Homo sapiens: one gene and its partners. The protein of the gene in region 1 interacts with the protein of each later gene in a pairwise test. Each region holds a gene or a part of one and is shown in the gene's direction. Other genes may lie near its edges. The genes, in order: CNOT11, CNOT1 and GPBP1L1.

Region 1 (3,500 bases):
AATGCATGCCAAGTTGTTTGTTGCATGTCTATCCTATGCATACCTAAAGATACAGGCTGGGCGCAGTGGCTCACACCTGCAATCCCAGCATTTTGGGAGGCCGAGGCAGGTGGATAACTTGAGGTCAGGAGTTCTAGAGCAGCCTGGCCAACATGGTGAAACCCCATCTCTACTAAAAATAAAAAATTAGCCGAGTGTAGTGGCATGCATCTGTAGTCCCAGCTACTTGGGAGGCTGAGTCAGGAGAATTGCTGAGGCAGAAGTTGCAGGAGCCGAGATCGAACCACTGCACTCCAGCCTGGGTGACAGAGTGAGATTCTGTCTCAAAAAGGAAAAAAAAAAAATACAGATTCTCATTTTACTGAAATGAGTCTTTTTGTAGCAGCTCATTATCTTTTTGTTTTATACCTGTTAAATCTTCTTATTGCTATCATTTCCTTTTCCATTTTAAAGTTTTTCTTATAAACTCCTAATTTACTTTAATTCAAAGAAAACACTTGTAGAATTTGAAATAATATAGCTGCATTTTTTGGGGATTTCTTTAAGAGATGGAATCTTGCTATGATGCCCAGGCTGGACTCAATCCCTTGAGGCTCAGGGGATCCTCCTACCTCAGACTCCCACATAGTTGGAATTACAGGCATGCACCACTCTACCTGGCATCTGTTTTATAGGCTTCTGTGTGCTTTGAATTATGAAGGCAAGCTTTCTGCTTTGGGATGAGAACATGTTTACCAGATGATAGTGTAGTATCACCATGAGTTTGAAGTTCACACAGTGACTTTTGTACCATTTGGTTTACAGTAGATCTTTGACATACATAGGTTTAATATTTGAAGTTTCTGCTGGTCACAAGTGTGACTGAAATGTCCATGGCATGTAATGGCTTCTTTTAAATATTTGCTCGGGCAGAACTCTAAATTGCATAGGTCACCAGGAAGATATATGAAAAGCAGATCACTCATAATAAGTGGGTCTAGCCAAACACCAGGTGTCCCCACCTCGCAAGAACTCTCTATCACATAAGTAGTATTTCTCATAAATTGTTAAAAACTTTATTTTTGTAAGTGGTTGAAGGGAGATTCAGATGCTAGTCCTGGTGAGGTAAGTGAAGAGGCAGTGGAGATGTTTAAGATAAAGTGATGATTTTTAACTAAAAAATATTTTCTGTAAACTCAACAGTAGACTCTCAAATTTGGCAGGGCTAGGATCCATGACAGGAATAAGCCACTCCTGCCCTATGTGGAAACTATGTGAGATGTGAAATTGGTTCAGCAGAAGTCCTAGCCAGCATTTATTTCAGTGGGTTTGTAACTCAGGGATGAATCTTGTTTTATAAAATAGTTGAGTTGAACCACTTCATTTTCCTTTTGTACTTCTATTGTTTTCTGAAAATGAATATAGTATTTGTGAATTTAGGGATTCGTGACGGTTTCCACATTCGTTTCGAAATATCAAAAGGCAACCATACTTTTCCTCCTGCTGCTTCATCGCCACGTAATTTGTTACTTCAGTTATAAGATGCAAAGATAAAACTAGTACAAATCATAGTGGCAGCTGAACAAATAGTGGTAACTAAGAATAGGATGTGTGAGGGCATAGTATTTCATTTTTTCATCAAAAGACTTCACCCGTTTAGGAGTCGTGCCCTTTTGCTGTTGAGTGGCCATGCTCAAGTGCAGCATGGGCAGATCACGGCCAGGCTTTCCTCACTTCTGCAAAGCGAATAGATTGTTCTCTGGCATCATGCTGGCATAGTGTTCTTTCATTGTCTTGTTTGCATTCTGACTGAAACCCTGACTTCCTGTGTCATTCCTGCTTCTGATTTTGAAGTATGAGAGTTCTAGTCACATCATCCTTATTAAGAGATTTCTTTGCATACTTTATTAAGTGAAATGTGTGAGATGTGTAGAGATGTTAGCTTCCTGATAGGAGCAACTATCACGGCTCTCATTACAGGCCATTTTCGACCAGAGTTTATTCGTCCACCGCCTCCACTCCACATTTGTGAGGATGAACTTGCTTGGCTAAACCCCACGGAGCCTGACCACGCGATCCAGTGGGATAAATCGATGTGTGTTAAGAATAGCACTGGTGTGGAGATCAAACGAATAATGGCCAAAGCCTTCAAAAGCCCCTTATCCTCTCCCCAACAAACACAGGTGTGTATTGATTGTAAGCATTTTCTTATCTTTTTTTTTAAATTTATTTTTAATTAAAAAAATTTGTTTTTGAGACAGAGTCTCACTCGGCTGCCCAGGGTGGAGTGCAGTGGCACGATCTCGGCTCACTGCAGCCTCTGCCTCCCGGGTTCAAGTGATACTCGTGCCTCAGCGCCCCCAGCAGCTGAGACTACAGGCATGCACCACCATGCCCGGCTAATTTTTGTATTTTTATGAGATGGGGTTTTGCCATTGTTGGCCAGGCTGGTCTGGTGGCTTCAAGTGATCTGCCAACCTTGGCCTTCCAAAGTGCTGGGATTACAGGTGTGAGCCACTGTACCCAGCCATTGTGAGCATTTTCTTATCTTTAATCCAACAAGAGTTTATTTTTTTTTTGGAAAGTGGTAAGCAATAAACTAATCCTGTCACTGTGAGTGAGCAGTAGGAAGTTGCAAAGGTTTTTGGGTCTCTGAAGCTTTGTTCTACTCTTTGGTAATTTTGCTGTGGTGGGGCAAGAAGTCTGATGGCAAAAATGTTCTAACTTTTCTTTGTGATGTTTGTCCCTGGGAGAGGTGGGGTAGTGGGGGTGTCACTGCTGTGTACAGTGGGACACTACACAATGGTTACGTTTGAGCTGATGGTAACGCTTCTGATGGAAAGTGGAGTTACTGACAGGCTGTAGGGAGGAAAACAAGGCTGGGAAGGGGAACCCGCCCCCATCACACAGCTGGATCGTGGTGTATTTGAGATTAAAGTAGCCCCCACTGCCCGAGTGTGAGACTGGATGACTCTCCTCAGGAAAGGCAAGGCCACTCTTCTATTGGTTGGTGAATTTTATCCAGTTTGCACACTTTTGAGTTAGAACTTTTTAGGAGATGACCTCTCCTATCACGTTTGCCACCAAAAATATCATTTTCAAAACGAAATAATAGCAACGTTTGTAGTTCGCTTTGCTCGCAAGACCATCCTGAAAACACAGTCCACTGTGGAACATATTAAGTAGACGGGGGAAAAAAAGCATAGGACATTTAAAGAGGAAGTGCTTACTTCATAGAAAAAGTCCTTTGAGGATACCTGTTTGAATTACAAAGTGTGGGTGTGACTTGAACTGTAAAGTTCTGCAGACTGATGACTCGCAGCAGGTCAGCTGTCCGGATTCCCGCTCCGGCTTCCCACTCCGCCCCCTTCTCAGGTATTTCTGGTCTCCACCTGGGTGGGGTGGGGCAGGACTGTTTCTTGGGAGAACTAGTTGGTCATTAAGATTATTTTTAGTTACAACAGATGACAGAAAAAAAAAACCTGCAAAGGACTTGACATTGTTACAACCAGACAGTATTT
Region 2 (3,730 bases), on another chromosome or scaffold:
TGAATCACAATAAATGTTTGGCCTTTCCATGAAGGTGTAAGAAGGGTTTAGAAATACTGGTGCTAGAATTGGTCCTCTGCAGGAGTAAGCATAAGGAGTTCTGTTTTGCTCATTTTAAGGTATCCAATGAACCTGGGAATCGCTACAACCTCCAGCTCATCAATGCACTGGTGCTCTATGTCGGGACTCAGGCCATTGCGCACATCCACAACAAGGGCAGCACACCTTCAATGAGCACCATCACTCACTCAGCACACATGGATATCTTCCAGAATTTGGCTGTGGACTTGGACACTGAGGGTGAGTGAAGCCTGCCAGTTTTCAGAGTAGAGTTCTCTGTGCTTTTTGCTACAATCTGATCACAAAAATGTAAAAATGCTTCAAGCCACAATAGTGAAGGAATGTTCTGTCAGTATATTTATTCACAGGTCTAGCTGATTATTTTATCTTTAATTGGACATTATCTGCTCAGTGCAGGAAATACAAAAAAGCATAAAGGAAAGAATTATCCAGAATCGTGCAGTATCAGTTTTGGTGTATGTGACTGAAGTTTTTTAGTGTGAAAATAAACTTAAAGTCCCTTTAAACATAGCCTCTTGTTACATTGTTTTGTTAGGCTGCCTTATATAAGCATTTTTATTGGTGCGTGTTTGGCAGGCATCTTGTTAAATGTTCATGTATAAAGATTAATGAATAGGACTCTCCTGTTCTGCAAAAAGCTCACAGTATAACTCCTGTTGCAGGTTGCAGCTTTTCTGCTTGAGCTACATTTCATTTGGTCCTCTATATTTATCTTATAAAATAGAGACCCCAGTTAGGTGCTAACTAGTTGTACAGTCCTGTCCAGTTTTGCATACATATATTTTAGGGGGACACTACTCTTTAACTTTGCTATTGATTCTTGAGAGATGAATTGATGTTGCATATATGCTGCATGCCTATATGTGGGATGGATTTAAGACAGCTTAAATTCAAGATATAACAAAATTGAATACCATCACGTCCAAGAGCTCGGCAATAAAAGGACGGCAGCCTTTAGAGAAACGTGTCACTGTGACAGACTCACAAACACGAATAATGTCAAGCAGAGGCAAACAACCAAACCCAATTAAGATAATACTTATTCCAGTGTAGTTTAGACTAATCAAAATGTGGGCTGGGTACCCTTAGGGTGTCAAGACCTTTTTAGGAGGGCTGTGAGGTCAAAACTTTTTTTTTTTTTTTTTTTTGCGATAGAGTCTTGCTCTCACACCCAGGCTAGAAGGCAGTGGCGCAATATCGGCTCACCATAACTTCCGCCTCAGGGGTTCAAGCGATTCTCCTGCCTCAGCCTCCCGAGGAGCTGGGATTACAGGCACACGCCACCATGCCCAGCTAATTTTTATGTATTTTTAGTAGAGATGGGGTTTCACCATGTTGGCCACGCTGGTCTTGAACCCCTGACCTCAAGTGATCCACTTGCCTCAGCCTCCCAAAGTGCTGGGATTACAGGCGTGAGCCACCGTGCCCGGCCCAAAACTGTTTTCATCATAAAACAACATTTACATTTTTGGGTCTATTCTGTCATGAGTGTACAGTTGAATTTCTCAGAGGTTACATGAAATATACTGTAACAAGTTGAACACAGAAGCAGAAATGAGAATCCAGCTGTCTTTTATTAAGCAAGACTTAGAGATCTGCAAAATGTAGAAAGACTTAGTGATGAGTGTCACCAGAAAATAGTTCATGTTTCTTACATTAGCACATAGTGGGTCTGTTTTTAAAAATGAATATTTTTAAAATCTAATTTCTAATGTGGAAAATTCTGAAATAAAACGCACAGAAATGAGAACTCTTTGGGGTCCCAAGAACCACTGCTTTAAACCAAAGATTAATTTGAAAGCCTCTGTCAGAAACCCAAACCCTAGCCAGTTAGAACTGTCTTCCCATGTTGGCCTTTCAGACTAAGTCCTAAGTCAAGGTTTCTTAATTTCTAGGTCGCTATCTCTTTTTGAATGCAATTGCAAATCAGCTCCGGTACCCAAATAGCCACACTCACTACTTCAGTTGCACCATGCTGTACCTTTTTGCAGAGGCCAATACGGAAGCCATCCAAGAACAGATCACAAGGTAAGCGAGCAGCTTATTTTTTAAATGCTTCAAAAGGATCTCCTCCCTTTCATCTTTTTTTTTTCCTCTTTATGCTTTCAGTGTTCAGTGAAAATCCGTTTGGTTGGTTTTTTTTTTGTTTTTTTGAGACGGAGTGTTGCTCTGTCACTCAGTCTGCAGTACAGTGGCGCCATCTTGGCTCACTGCAACCTCCGCCTCCCAGGTTCAAGCGATTCTCGTGCCTTAGCCTCTCAAGTAGCTGGGATTACAGGCGCCTGCCACCACGCCCAGCTAATTTTTGTATTTTAGTAGAGACGGGGTTTCACCATGTTGGCCAGGCTGATCTTGAACTCCTGACCTCAAGTGATCCACCCGCCTCAGCCTCCCAAAGTGCTGGGATTACAGGCGTGAGCCACTGCACCCGGCCTTCAGTGAAAATCTTTTACATGTCCAATAATGTGTTAAATGTGGGATACAATTGTGAGCAAAATGGATGGTTCCTGCCCTCTTAATACTCATTCTGATGGACATTTATCACAAGATAGGGAATTATAAATCGCAATCATGGCTTAAATGAAAAGTAGTTTACCACAAGGCACATTTTGATTAAAGGTCAGGAGTTTCTCTGAGGTGGTGGTGATAACCAGTCCTAAATCATGCAGGCCTATGAAGTCTATGTTAAGGAACTTGGACTTTTCCTCATTACCTCTGGGTTGAAAGCAGTAGCAATAACAGGATCATACTTGCATTTTCCTAACAATAGTTAGGAATCTGTTGCCAGATTGCCTAGACTACATATAGCATTAGAGAGATTGTGATACACACACACACACACTTTAAAAATTGGGCCAGACTCTTAAAACTTGCTCATTTGCCTAATTAGTCACCTATGGTGCTAAATATGGTATTCCTTTGATTTGTGTACTAAAATTTAATATCTTATTGGATGCTTAGATGATGATGATCCATTTTGTTTATATAAAGCTGCAGTAAGTCTCCTTGGACTTGTAATCTTTGTTATGCTTCATGTACAGTTGGTACGTGAAAGGATATAAAGTTAAGCCAATGCTTACTGGCATTCGGAAAAATTTTACCAATTTACATGTGAACTAGCAATGTTAGCTTTTTTTTTTTTTTTTTTTTTTTTTTTTTTGAGACAGTCTCGCTTTGTCGCCTCCTGAGTAGCTGGGATTACAGGCACCTGCCACCACGTCCGGCTAATTTTTTGTATTTTTAGTAGAGACGGGGTTTCACCATCTTGGCCAGGCTGGTCTTGAACTCCCGACCTCGTGATCCACCCGTCTTGGCCTCCCAGAGTGCTGGGATTACAGGCGTGAGTCACTGTGCCCAGCCTGCAGTGTTAGAATACTTAATTCTTATTTTCTGTTTCCTTTTTATTGAGAGTGAGCTTATTTATTTATTTAATTTATCTGTTTATTTGAGACAGGGTCTCACTCTGTCTCCCAGGCTGGAGTGCAGTGGCACCATCTCGGCTCACCACAACCTCCACCTACTGGGTTCAAGCGATTCTCCTGCCTCAGCGTCCGACTGCTGGGATTACAGGCATGTGGCCACCATGTCTGACTAATTTTTATATTTGTAGCAGAGATGGGGTTTCACCATGTTGGCCAGGCTGGTCTCG
Region 3 (3,730 bases), on another chromosome or scaffold:
TTATGTGCAGTTAAGTGCTTTGAGAAATTGCACAGTGAAGAACCTTGTTGAACTTTTTTCACCCCGGCACCTCCCAAACTCATTGAACTATTGAACTAGAGCCCTGTTTTTGGGAAGTCACTATTAATGTCCAATGGCTCTTCTGTATCCCATCTACCATTTTCCTTGAAGTGCCTAACCTCCGAAAGAGGTTGCATACTTCCCAAACATGTTAAGACAGGTAAGCCCTGGAAACTTATGTTCTCATGTAACATTTCACTCTTTGCTTTATGATTTTATAAGCTGAGCTTCTGTTTGTGTGCTTGTTCTGACTGATTTGTTCTTTCACCCTGTGTAGCCTAATGCATGGAAAGCTAACAGGATGGAGCACAAGTCAGGATCCCTTTCCTCTAGCCGGGAGTCTGCTTTTACCAGTCCAATCTCTGTTACCAAACCAGTGGTACTGGCTAGTGGTGCAGCTCTGAGTTCTCCCAAAGAGGTGAGTGAGGATGAAGCAGGACAGTCTTTTCTGAAATTGCCATTTCCCGTTCACTTAGATAACAAGTGTAATATGTATAGCTGTGACACTTGTTTTGTAGCTATATTTAGCTGAGAATAGTTTCTTTATTGATGTTTTCTGTTAGCATCCAAAAGTGGGCAGTGGCTAAATGGGATAGATGCTCTGTGGTGGACCAAGGTCATCCTATGTTAGACTGGCATTCTGCTGATGTCTGTAGAAAGATCAAAGAGGTGCCATGTAAGCCAGCTGCTCTTAACTATATAAACCCTGCAAAACTGAAGTTTGAACTGCTTAAATAAAAGGATTGTTTGGTTTAAGACAGAGTGATAAATAGGCTACCAGATTCTTGAAGTCAGCACTTAGTAGAAGAGAACCCCAGTTCTTGCTCTTTGCTGTCAGGAGCAACCTGTTTGTGGTATTTGCCCAGAGTCCCTCCAGCACCACCCCTCCAATTGAGATCAGCTCCTCTCGTCTGACCAAGTTGACCCGCCGAACCACCGACAGGAAGAGTGAGTTCCTGAAAACTCTGAAGGATGACCGGAATGGAGACTTCTCAGAGAATAGAGACTGTGACAAGCTGGAAGATGTAAGAGCATCCGCCTTTTCTGGGGGTAGCCTAGGAATTTTCCTTTGATACATACGTGATTTCTTCTTCTTAAAGGATAAAGATGTGGCAAGATTTTTAAATGTACAGAGATACTGTCTGTAGGTGTAACTGCCTTCTAGACCACATAGTAAAGTGAGTTTAATCCTTTTTTCAGCAAAAATGTTAAATTCGGGTTTATTTTAGTAATCACTCACCTATTGAAGTACATCTTGGTTGCTTCCAAGTGTTGGCAACTATGAATAAAACTGCAGTAAACATCCATGTGCAGGTTTTTGTGCTGGCATAAGTTCAACTCCTTTGGGTAAATACCAAGGAGCGCAATTGCTGGATCATATGGTAAGAGCATGTTTAGCTTGTCAGGAAACCACCAAACTGTCTTCCAAAGTGGTTGTGCCATTTTGCATTCCCACCAGCAATAAATGAGAATTTCTGTTGCTACACCTCCTCACCAGTATTCGATATTATCAGTGTTCTGGATTTTGGCCCTCCTGATAGGTGTGTAGTTTTAATTTGCACTTCCATGATGACATATCATGTGGAGCATCCATCTATGTATCTTCTTTGTTGATGTGTTTGTTCAGGTCCCTTACCCATTTTTTAATGAGGTTGTCTGTTTTCTTATTGCTAAGTTTTAAGAGTTCTTAGAGTTCTTTGTATATCTTAGTTAATAGTCCTTTATTAGATGTGTCTTTGACTACAGTTTCTCCAAGTCTGTGATTTGACTCTTCATTCTTTCTTATTTATTTATTTTGAGACAGAGTCTGGCTCTTATCACCCAGACTGGAGTGCAGTGGCACGATCTGGGCTCATTGCAACCTCCGCTTCCCGGGTTCAAGCGATTCTCCTGCCTCAGCTTCCTGAGTAGCTGGGATTACAGGCACCCGCCACCACGCCCAGCTAATTTTTGTATTCTTAGTAGAGATGGAGTTTCGTCATGTTGGCCAGGCTGGTCTTGAACTCCTGGCCTCAAGTGTTCTGCCTGTCTCAGCCTCCCAAAGTGCTAGGATTAAAGGCATAAGCCACCACATGTGGCCATATTTATTTATTTGTATTACTTTATTTTTTGAGATGGAGTTTCACTCTGTTGCCCAGGCTGGAGTGCAATGGAGCAATCTCAGCTTACTGCAACCACCGCCTTCCAGGTTCAAGCAGTTCTCCTGCCTCAGCCTCCCAAGTAGCTGGGATTACAGGCATGTGCCACCACATGACACACGTTATTTAGCTTCTTAGCTCTGGCCAGAGGACCAGGAAACTACAGTGCAGAACAAGAGGCAGAGGAAGGCCAACCTGCTTCCTTGAAGACCAAGAGCTCAGACCATAACTCTGGAACACAGCCTTGTGGTTCTGATAAGGAATTAGACCTGTGAGGATGAAAGAGTATACTATTTTCTGGAATTTTTTTTGTATGTAGTAGAGACAAGGTTTCACCATGTTGGTCAGGCTGGTCTCGGATTCCAGACCTCAGGTAATCCACCCACCTCAGCCTCCCAAAATGCTGGGATTACAGGCATGAGCTGCCATGCCCAGCCGGCCATATTTGTTTTTGAGACAGTGTCTCACTCTGTCGCCCAGGCTGAATGCAGTGGCATTAATGATCACAGTTCACTGCAGCCTCGACCTCCCCTCCTCAAGCTATGCCTCAGCCTCAGCCTCCCGAGTAGCTGGGACTATAGGCTTGTGCCACCATGCCTGGCTAATATTTTGTTTGGTACAGAGATAGCTTCTTGCTATGTTGCTCAGGCTGGTGTTAAACTCCTAGACTCAAGCAGTCCTCCCACCTTTGGCCTCCGAAAGTGCTAGGATTACAGGTGTGAGCAACTACACTGTCTTTTAATTCTCTTGACAGAGTGTTTTGCAAAGCAGAAATTTTTTTTATTTTAATGAAATCCAGCCTAATTAATTGTAGGCCAGTCACGGTGGCTCAAACCTATAATCCCAACACTTTGGTTGGCTGAGGTGGGCGGATCACCTGAGGTCAGGAGTTTGAGACCAGCCTGGCCAACCTGGCGAAACCCCGTTCCTACTAAAAACAGAAAAATTAGCCGGGCATGGTAGCATGCACCCATAGTCACAGCTACATGGGAGGCTGAGGCATGAGAATCACTTGAACATGGGAGGCGGGGGTTGCAGTGAGCCGAGATCGCGCCACTGCACTCCAGCCTGAGCAACAGAGTGAGACTTGATCTCCAAAAATAAGTAAGTAAATAAACAAATAAATAAATAAATAAATGTCATACCCAAGGTAATCTAAGTTTTCTTTTATGTTATCCTTATAGGAGTTTTATAGTTTTGTGTTTTACATTTAGGTCTGTGACCCATTTTGACTTTATTTTTGTGACGGCTGTAAGGTCTTTGTTTAGATTGATTTTTTTTTTTTTAGTGTGGCTGTCCAATTGTTCCCTCACCATTTGTTGAAAAGACTATCTTTTCTCCATTGTATTTCCTTTGTCAAAGATCAGTTGTCTATTTGTGGGCTCTCTGTTCTGTCCCATTGGACTATTTGTGTCATCTTCTGCCAGTACCACACTTTTTCCCCCCACACCTCTTATGAGCACTGTTACCATACTGTTTTAATTACTCCAGCTTTTGTGGTAAGTCTTGATGTCAGGTAATATCAGTACTCT

The links.
Region 2: the proteins of CNOT11 (region 1) and CNOT1 interact in binary tests that used the Homo sapiens proteins (3 or more experiments, as listed by UniProt).
Region 3: the proteins of CNOT11 (region 1) and GPBP1L1 interact in binary tests that used the Homo sapiens proteins (3 or more experiments, as listed by UniProt).

What each region holds. Positions count from the first base shown.
Region 1 is NC_000002.12:101,262,886-101,266,385, forward strand, and holds part of CNOT11 (CCR4-NOT transcription complex subunit 11), read left to right. Parts: intron 1-1,959; coding exon 1,960-2,162; intron 2,163-3,236; exon of another isoform or gene 3,237-3,500. UniProt on the Homo sapiens protein: Component of the CCR4-NOT complex which is one of the major cellular mRNA deadenylases and is linked to various cellular processes including bulk mRNA degradation, miRNA-mediated repression, translational repression during translational initiation and general transcription regulation.
Region 2 is NC_000016.10:58,521,749-58,525,478, reverse strand, and holds part of CNOT1 (CCR4-NOT transcription complex subunit 1), read left to right. Parts: intron 1-119; coding exon 120-300; intron 301-1,636; exon of another isoform or gene 1,637-1,976; coding exon 1,977-2,109; exon of another isoform or gene 2,110-3,730.
Region 3 is NC_000001.11:45,630,844-45,634,573, reverse strand, and holds part of GPBP1L1 (vasculin-like protein 1), read left to right. Parts: intron 1-337; coding exon 338-478; intron 479-898; coding exon of another isoform or gene 899-926; coding exon 927-1,085; intron 1,086-3,730. UniProt on the Homo sapiens protein: Possible transcription factor.